Homo sapiens: one gene and its partners. The protein of the gene in region 3 purifies or fractionates together with the protein of the main gene of each other region. This does not show direct contact. Each region holds a gene or a part of one and is shown on either strand. Other genes may lie near its edges.

Region 1 (3,500 bases), on a different chromosome or scaffold from region 3:
ATCATAATTCAAATCAAACTTCTAACACATTATTTAGTAAGCAATATTATTTGTTAATCATGTTACTAAAAAGAACAATGTAAACAGGCTTGAGAAATTCTTCAAGATACATCAAAGGCAAGAAAATGGAGTCACAGTCTCATCTAGATTGGAGTAAATAGGTGGAAAGAACACAATCTATCTCTAAATAAAGTCAACCAAGATGTCTTGTTTTCTAGTAGAGGTATAAACTTTGAAGTTAAATCTTTCTTGCCAATCGTTTTATTTATTTATTTATTTATTTATTTTTGAGACAGGGTCTTGCTCTGTCACTCAGGCTGCAGTGCAGTGACATGATCACAGTTCACTGCAGCCTTGACCTCCCCAGCTCAGGAGATCCTCCTGCCTCAGCCACTGAGTAGCTGAGACTACAGGTGCACATCACTATGCCTGGCTAATTTTTTGGTATTTTTCATAGAGACAGGGTTTCGTCATGTTGCCCAGGCTGGTCTCGAACTCCTGCACTCAAGTGATCCTCCTGCCTCAGCCTCCTAAAGTGCTGGGACAATAGGCATAAGCCACCACACCTGGCCTCTTGTAAATCTTTCAAAGCAAAATATTGAAATTCACAATTTAATCAAAGAACTTGGCTATTAAGGAGCCAAAACCAAAAATTACTTACACATTTTTTAAGATCCTAAACTATCTGGGGCTAAAAACAAACAAAAACTCTACCACAGAGATCATGTTCATCTAATGAATTTTATATATTATGTCACTGTTTGATACAGTAAAATTCTAATTTTAATTTGTTCCATACAAATTAAATTCTGGCCAAAAGGCATAGGCCTTTAAATTGTAAAGAAATGAAGCAGCTTGTCCAACACTGGTCACCATGCCAAACTGTTTTTAAAGAACCACATGAGTTCCTGATTGTTGCTAAACATTTCATTCATGTGTTTTCCCTTACCCATTATATTCCTGGTTTCTCTAACACACCAAAGGCTGGTCTGGCTTTTACAAGCACTCAGGGCAGTTTTCCACCTCATTCATACTCCCTGAGTTGCTTTTTCCTCTGCCATCTGTGTTAGTAAAAATAAGCAAAATATATTTGCTATGTTTAAAATCTTGCCTGCACTGATTTTTTTTTCCTGTTGTTTGGATAATCAAGTTATCTTGATAAATGAAGCCACTGCCAGTCACTGTAACTGAGAAATAGAATAAAAATGGAATTAAAGGGCAATTGATGTCCATGGTTTGGTATGTGTATATGAATACAAATCCATGCACAAACATTTTCCTTTTTCATCTTTCAAAAAACAAAAATAGCACTATTTGTGTGTGCTTTCATTGGCCAAACTGTCAAAATGACCTTCTGTAAAAAGCACAAGAACAATTAAAGACATGATCTTAGTAAGAGAAATCACCACTATCTGGCAACTTTAAAAACTTTTAATGTCAGTTTTTATAACACTAATATATACACATACATACAATATTGTCCACACCAAAATAACAGTTATGCTTGATTTCTTAACTGGTATTATATTTTGTGATATAGATAAACATAGAGTAAATATTAAAATATTATAAAATAACTAATCTAATATAAAATAACTCTTGAAATGGGAAAATCTGATAGTATGCTGACACAATGTGTTAGTATAATATTTCTCCCCTATGTCACAGGGGAAGCCCTAGAAATACATACATACATACATAAATATATAATAGGACACATTTACTCACATTTACATCTGTGTGATGAATTAAAACACAAAGGGCTGGAAGAATCTGAGGAGAGAAATATGTAGATTTAAAAACATACACAAATAAAAAATATATATATAATGGTATCTCTTTTAATTTTTTTTTAAAAGTGTTTACCTCCTGAATGGTTTCCATTGGTGGTGGTGGGTCTTTGTGGCGACATAAGTTGACCATAACCCAAGTAACATTTCTTAAGAATGTTATAGGAATAGATGGACTTATGAAGGAAAGTAAAGGTTTCACAACTCCAAGACTTATGACATAATCTCTACACTGGGGCCCATCACCTGTAGAAAAAAAGGATTAATTTACTCAATAAAACATACTGACAGTAAGCATTTTCAGAAAACACAAAGCACTGGGAATATGCTGCTTCATGTATTTTATCCAGATACACTGTTCAGTTTTAGACAATAACAAGCAGGCTCACATTCAAGGTCTCTGAGCCAAGAGAGGCAACATAAAGTGATAAGGTATTCTTTTGCACATTATTCCCATCTTCAGCATTTTGCTGCTCACTTAATTAAACTGCTGCTTTTAACTTCTCTCTCAACAATACTCTTGGTTTAACAAACTTTCATGTGATAAAAAAGATGTATCAAGAAAATATTTGTTGAATTTGTACTTATGATCCCGTATCAGAGCATCAAGGTTATGAACTATAAATTACTCTATACACTTAGAAAACTATGTCAGAAGAAAAGGGTGAACCAGTGCTAGAATAGTGGTTCTCAATGTGATTATTGGGCTCTAGCTCAGGCCTCCTGAAGCAGAAACTCTATGGGTTTGGAATTCTGTGTTTTAACAAGCACCCCATGTAGTCCTGATTGCATGCTAAGGTTTGAGAACCACTGCTGCAGAGAACTGCCAAGTTTAATTTCTGTATCTGAAGCATCACTGCAGTTTCTAATATGAAGCCATGTTGAAATGTTACCATAAGTGAAAGCACCTTCCCTTGCACTATAATATCTGGAGATAAAATGTTTGTTCTTTTTGCATCTTTATATTCATGTTAATTACGGAATGTCACTGGAATAAAAAAATGAAAGATCAAGATGCTGTATAATAGCTCTAAATCTAACATTTGGTATAAAAGCAAAAGAGTGAGGGAGTCTGGATATAGAAACAATAGCATTCCTAATAGTATAAACCCAATGTCAAGAATGGTTTACAGAGAAATTCTCCCTTAAAAACTCATAACCACTCTTTACTTTCATGTTGGCCCTGTATAAGGGCAATAAAGAGATGGCATATCAAAGCAACAATGATTATTTCCATGCAAGAATAAAGAATTTGGCAAAAATAATCTTTAGAATCATTCTCCTTCACTAGATTAGCAATACCCCTACAAACAGTACCTCAGCCCCCACTCATAACTGTTAGGTCTCTGAGCTATACTGGGGCACAATACAATTCAGATTTTTTCCATCCTTTACTGGAGAATAGTTCTTTGAATTTTTGAGTTTAGGCTCTAGTTAAAAAAACAAATCCTTGAAATATCAGAATTGTCTTTATTTTCCTTACAATTATTTATCAGAGAGAACCTGAAAGTTATAGTAATCACAGTGTTAAATATTTAACCAGACTGTCAAAAGGCTATGGTTATGTCTTGTTGATTCATGGTGACAGGAAATAATATTACTATATTTTATACATTACTAAATTCTAATGTACTGAAGTCTGCAAGAGAGAAAAAATTTCATTTTAGACTCTTCTCAGAACTGTCATTACGGAGAAAAATTATTGGTTTA
Region 2 (3,736 bases), on a different chromosome or scaffold from region 3:
TAAAGATCGGTGTCACAGAAGCCAAGGGAAAAGAGTGTTTCACAAGGAGTCAATGTCAAATGCTGCTAAGAGGTCCAAGAAGATGAGGACTGAAAAAAAAGACCCCCATGTTTCCCAATCTAATGGACATCAACAACTTTAGCAAGAGGGTTTTGTTTTGGTTAAACAGAATATTATAGCAGGAGTGAGTTAAGGAATTCATGAGAGGAAAAAAGCACATATAGCATGTACTGAAAACTCCTTTAAGAAGCATGCCTGTGAAAGAGAATAGAAAAACATGACAGCAACAGAAAATATGCAGGTCAAAGGACAGGGTTTTCAAAATGGGAGACAATAGGGCAAGTGTGAATTCTGAAGGAAAAGACCTAGTAGAAAGATGAAATAAACCAAAGGAAGAAATTCTTTAAGACAGGAGAGGCCAAGCACAGTGGCTCACACCTGTAATCCCAGCACTTTGGGAGGGTGAGGCAGAAGGACTGCTTGAAGCGAGGAATTCGAGGCCAGCCTGGGCAACAAAGTGAGACACCATCTCTACAAAAAGTTTTTAAAATGTGGCTGGGTGCAGCGGCTCATGCTTATAATCCCAGTACTTTCAAAGGCCAAGGAGGAAGGATCACTTGAAGCTGGGAGTTCAAGACCAGCCTAGGCAACATAGCAAGAGACCCCATCTTGGCCAGGTGTGGGCTCGCGCCTGTAATCCCAGCACTTTGAGAGGCCAAAGTGGGCAGATCACAAGGTCAGGAGTTCCAGACCAGCCTGGCCAACCTGGTGAAACCCCGTCTCTACTAAAAATACAAAAATTAGCCAGGCACAGTGGCGGATGCCTGTAATCCCAGCTACTTGAGAGGCCGAGGCAGCAGAATTGCTTGAACTCACGAGGCGGAGGTTGCAGTGAGCCGAGATAGTGCCACTGCAGTCCAGCCTGGGTGACAGAGTAAGGCTCCATCTAGGGGGAAAAAAGAGACCCCATCTCTACAAGAAAGTCATAAAAAAATTAGCCAGGTATGGTGGCATGCACCTATAGTCCCAGCTACTCGGGAGGCTGAGAAGGGAGGTTCTATTGAGCTCAGGAGGTTGAGGGTGCAATGAGCTATGACCACACCACTGCACTCCTGCCTGGGCTACAGAGTGAGACTTCATCTCTTGAAGAAAAATGAATGAAAACAAAGAGAAAGAGAGAGAAGAAAGATAGAAAAAGAAAGGAGGAGGAAGGGGGGAGGGGGAGAAAAGAATGATTACAGCACCTGTGAAGGGATTGGTCTTGACAGAATGAAGGAGAAAAAGATGAGTCCCAGATGCACATAGGTTTGTAGACTTGGGAGGTAAAAGAATGAAGGAATTCCCATTCAGCAGCTTCCATTTTTATAATGAGGCATAAAGCCTATGACTGGTTAAAAAAGAAGAAAATATGAGAGATTAGAAATAAGAGCTGGGCACGGTGGCTCATGCCCATAATCTCAGCACTTTGGGAGGCTGAGGAGGGCGGATCACGAGGTCAGGAGATTGAGCCATTCTGGCGAACACGGTGAAACGCCATCTCTACTAACAATACAAAAATTAGCTGGGCGTGGTAGTGCGTGCCTGTAGTCCCAGCTACTCATGAGGCTGAGGCAGGAGAATCGCTTGAACCCGGGAGGCGGAGGTTGCAGTGAGCGGAGATCGCGCCACTGCACTCCAGCCTGGGGACAGAGCAAGATTCCATCTCAAAAAAAGAGAAAAAGAAATAGAGACAGTAGGCCAGGCACAGTGGCTAATGCCTATAATCCCAGCACTTTGGAAGGGTGAGACAGGAGGATCACTTGAGCCCGAGAATTGGAGACCTGCAACATGGCAAGATACCGTCTCTACAAAAAAATAAAAAAATAGCCAGGCGTGGTAGCACACTTGTAGTTCTGGCTACTCAGGAGGCTGAGACAGGAGGATTGCTTGAACCAGGGAGTTTGAGGCTACAGTGAGCTGTGACTGTACCACTGCACTCCAGCCTGGGTGAGAGAGGGAGACCTTGTCTCAGTAAAAAAGAAAAGAGAAAGAGACAATATGAAGAAATAATTCGCAGTGAGCTGGAAAGTGAACTAGAGAAATGTATAACATTGCTAGGTAATGCTGATTATGCATATGAAATAGATGATTATAAATTTTTAATGACACTGATCTGTCTAATTTGCTGATTTTCTCTAGCAACTCTCAGCTCCATGAGTGCCAGCAACTAAGAAGGTAGATGGTTAGGTTCAACCCGTACATCACTCCAAGTTCTACAAGCAGCAGAAGTCAACACTGGCTGAATTAAACAGAAAAAGAATTTACAGAAAGGATATGAGGTCACTTTTTCAGTGAAGAACTTAAGTGCTACACAGCTAAAACAACACTCAAAATTACAGAACTGGGTTGGCAAAGATGTGATTGCTAATGCCAAGCAGGAGATGCTGCAGCTTGGTTTGCACCATCACAGTTCTGGATACTAAGTGCTAACACTTGCCACTGTTGCCCTTATAACTTGATCTTGCTGCTAGAGACTGATACTACATGTGAATCTGCTGATCAAGGAGGGGGATATTGTAAAGAACATGGTGGAACAGTTTGAGGGACTGAATCAGCTGAAGGATGAAGAGAGTGGTAAAGGAATTAGTATTGGGAAGATAATGGATGGCGGATGGCGGGTAGTGACTGAAACAAACAGGGATGTGAGGCATGGTGTTTAGGCCTCCCCTTGAAAGAGGCTAGATTGTGAGATCCAAAGTGGTCTTAGCAGCAGCTTAAGCAGACTTCAGTGGGAGTCTGGTCAGAGCAGCACGGGTGTTGGCACAGAGGCAAAGCTGCCCAATATTGCTATGGCCAGCATTTCATTGACAAAGCCTTGGACAAGTTAATTACTCTCTTTGAGCCTATATTTTCTTATCCATAATATAAAGATAGTACTACACATCTGATAAAGTTGTCATGAGGATTAAATACTAAGACAGAGATTCCTGACACGGAGTAAGTATTCAGTAAATGGTAGCAATTATAAGTGACACTGAAGCCAAGAGAAGAGTTTCCAAGAAAAGGTAGTCAATAGATGAAGTTTCACCTTGGAGCACTGTAGAATGTAAGTGTGTGCAGAGAAGATGAAGCTAGTTTTAGCCTCAGGTTTGCAACATTCAGAAAGGCTAAAGTCCTATACTCAGAGAAACTCAATCAGCAGTTCAAATACCCTTCCTTTATATAGGTTCTAAGCTAAGAACTAGGTGCCCCAAACCAATAGATTTCTACTGATAGACCCTTGAAAAAAAAAAAGAAAATAAAATCACCAGCTTTTAGTGCAAGCGTCCAAGAGGGAAATAGCTAACTGAACTGTTGCACGATACAGCTGGGGAAAAGGGAGACTGAAACCCATACAAATAATCATCTAATTTAATCAAAGTAATTTTAGAGTTGGGAACTGTTACAGAAGAAACGTCAATCCACTGCCGCTTTCTGCTCTGCTCTCACCAAATCGCAGGCCATAGGTCATTCAGACTATAAAAAGCTCCTACAAATTCCATAGAAATCTGATCAAGTTTACTAAACCTCTTGTTGGGTGAATGGAATTTCAGCTCCTCTAATTGTGTCTACCACCTAAACATGACAGCAGGGCAGTGGATCAGGGCAACTGCCAAGATTGTTCTCTTCCCATCTGCCTCAGTTGTACCTCTCTAAATTATTTAAACAAAAACCACCATGAAACAAACTGCATATTCTTTATAAACTTGACAAAGGG
Region 3 (2,790 bases):
GTGGTGTAGACAAAAGGGGCTGGAACCTCAGAGGAGAGAGGGATCATGGGAGATTGGAACATCTCTGGAAGGTTAGGGGAAGAGATGACAAGTAATGTGAATCCTAAAGAAAGAGGATTAGTTATTGGGGGTGCTAAGTGTGGATGGCAAACTAAGGAAGCAGGGATCTGCATGACCATTTGGAGTCAGTAGGAAGCTTGGTGGAGTGGGAGGTGGGAGTCAAGCAGAGAAGGCCTCCCATGTCAGATAGGGAAACTGCACTTGATCCTGGGCAAGGGGGAGCTATGGAAGGCTTTTGAGCAGGGGAGTGATACAATGAGAACAGCATTTTGGAAGCCAGCATGGAGGGGAGGCTGCTAAAAGGATACAAGGCTGAGGTTATTACCATGCCCTGGGTGAAGAAATGCGGTCTGGGTTTGGAAAGGAAGGGATAAACATGACTTTTCAAAGGAAGACATAATTGCCACAAGGGCCACCAGAGAGCAGTCAAAGGTGTGTCCAAGGTTGGAGCTCTAGTGACCAAGAGAAGGGTGTCAACTTTGACAGAAATGACGTCATGTGTGGTTGACAAAATGAGACCACATCCTTTCGGTCATGATTCATTGTCTTTATTAACAATGTCTCTGGACTCTGGAAGAACAGACTGTTAATTCATAAAGCAATATTAACATTGTCATTCTCTACAAGAAAAACTTTTGCATAAATAACTTAAGTGAGAAAATAAATATGTAACTTAACTCTTTAAAAACCACTACTTTCATTCTTGTGGACAAGTCCCACGTGGAAGAATTGCCAAAAAAACGACCAGTCCTGCAGGCTTTCATATGTCATGTGCTTCTGTTTAAAACTTTTTTTTTTTAACAATTAAAAACTACACAGAAAGTAAGAGGTTGTCTGGAAATGATTTTCAAAAAGATTTTTGGGTGGCAGTATTATGCTCTGCAGTTTCTCAGCATATGTACAGCACTTGTAGTTTTTCCCCCAATAATATTCTTTTAGTGTAAGATATGCCATCACATGTAAGAGCAGTAAGAAGCTGTTTTCTAGGCAGAAATGTGTCCGTGAGTGGTGGGCAGAAGGCGGTGTCTCAAAAGGGATGTGCTGGTCTGTGAGTTTGTGATGGCTGCTCCCTCGGGCCTGCAAGGCCAGTGTCCTTGAACCTTTCACTTCTCTTCGGAAGGTGACTTTAAAACATGGCTATGGGTCGGGGGAGGGATGCTGCTCTTTGGGAAGTTGGGGCGGATGTGATTTCTATCCCTCCCACCACCCTCGGACCCTCTCCTTTTCTACCCCAATGGATGATGTTATTTCTTTGAGATGGAGGGGTGGAGGTAGCCAAACATCCGGGGAAGCCAGGCTGGGAAGCAGCATAGCTTCTTCCAGGAGTTTGTCAGCCGTAAATATGTCAGCCATAAATAGACTCTTTACTTTTTTTTTTCTGTTTGTTTTTCATCTTTGGCTGTCAGAAGAGAGCATCACAACTCTGAATTCTGGAAGTGACCTTGGCACTGAATCAATGCAACTGCATTCATTCTCTCTCTTTCTCTCTCTCTCTCTCACCTCTGCCCATTCAAAAGGCACTGGAGTCCTTGGAATCATATGCCAATAGTCTCCTCGAGATCCTATTCCCACCTCCACCCTCATTTTACAAAGTGGAAATTGAGGTCCCGAAGGAGAATTGTGTAGTTCAAGGTTACACAGCAAGTTAGTGGCAGAGCCAGGACTAGAAACCACATCTACAGTTGCCCCCAGTCTTGTGCTCTGGGCACGCCTCAGGCTTTCTGATGGGCAGCGAGGTGCAAGGGGGAATCTTATCCAACTTTCTTAACCAGTCCCTGGACTTTCCCACTCCCACACCGCTCCCTTAAAACCCCAGGGCGGTGAAAATGCTTCCATTTCTGCCTCCTCTGAAGTGGGACCAGCAAAGGTAGGCGGCCCCAGAGGCGGGGCTGCGTGGCTCAGTGTCTGTGACTCTCAATTCCCTCCCCTGCCCCGTGGGACCCCTCAGCTGGCGGGCTGAGGGGGGCCTTGCCGGCGCCCGGGATTCCTCAGGGCCTGGAAGGTCTCAGCCCCCTGCCCTGGGTTGCAGGCATTTACAATGAAATATAAACAATCAAACCACGCGCAGAGGACAGAAATGTGGGGCGCGGGTTCAGGGCCGGGGCGCCCGCCGGTGGGGAGGGGCGCGGGCGGGCTCTAGTAGGCGTTCTCCAGCTCGGCCTGGTTGGCTTTGGCGCTCCGGGCGCGGGGCCGCGGCTTCCGGCCCTTCTGCGGCCGAGCGGCCTCGGTCCCGAAGTCCTTGAGCTCCGACTGGTTGTGGAAGCGGGTGAGGCGCTTGCACTTGCACGAGGCCACCAGGCGCACCTTGCGCGCGCGCGGCGCCTCACCACCGGGACACAGCAGCTGCACGCGCTGCGCGCGGTAGCGGTCGGGGATGCAGCGGAAGTCGGGCCCACTAGGTCGCCACCACTTGCCGCGGCCGATGGCGTTGGGCAGCAGGCGCGCCGGGCCGCACTGGCCGGAGCACACCAGCTCGGTGACCGGCTTGGCGCTGCGGCACGGCCCATCGGTCACGTAGCGGGTGAAGTGCAGCTCGCGGCAGCTGTACTCGGACACGTCTGTGGAGAGAGGCGCGCGTGAGGGTGGCCGCCCGCCTGGCCACCCCTGCCCTGGACCGGCCCGTCTCTCTCCACCCCAGCCCTGCTTTTGCCAAGCCTGTCTCCAGAGGCTTTTGCCCCTGAACATCTATTGCAGGAAGGTCCCAGATGCTCTAGAGCTGGTGGAAAGCTC

What was found.
Region 1: the proteins of SOST (region 3) and KPNA4 purify together in Homo sapiens (affinity purification with mass spectrometry; 2 studies listed by BioGRID and IntAct, with this or other methods). This does not show direct contact.
Region 2: the proteins of SOST (region 3) and AHCYL2 purify together in Homo sapiens (affinity purification with mass spectrometry; 2 studies listed by BioGRID and IntAct, with this or other methods). This does not show direct contact.

The regions. Positions count from the first base shown.
Region 1 is NC_000003.12:160,524,072-160,527,571, forward strand, and holds part of KPNA4 (importin subunit alpha-3), read right to left. Parts: intron 2,037-3,500; coding exon 1,867-2,036; intron 1,774-1,866; coding exon 1,729-1,773; intron 1-1,728. UniProt on the Homo sapiens protein: Functions in nuclear protein import as an adapter protein for nuclear receptor KPNB1. Binds specifically and directly to substrates containing either a simple or bipartite NLS motif.
Region 2 is NC_000007.14:129,231,476-129,235,211, reverse strand, and holds part of AHCYL2 (adenosylhomocysteinase 3), read right to left. Parts: intron 1-3,736. UniProt on the Homo sapiens protein: May regulate the electrogenic sodium/bicarbonate cotransporter SLC4A4 activity and Mg(2+)-sensitivity. On the contrary of its homolog AHCYL1, does not regulate ITPR1 sensitivity to inositol 1,4,5-trisphosphate.
Region 3 is NC_000017.11:43,753,146-43,755,935, forward strand, and holds the end of SOST (sclerostin precursor), read right to left. Parts: intron 2,619-2,790; coding exon 2,197-2,618; 3' UTR 593-2,196; downstream 1-592. UniProt on the Homo sapiens protein: Negative regulator of bone growth that acts through inhibition of Wnt signaling and bone formation.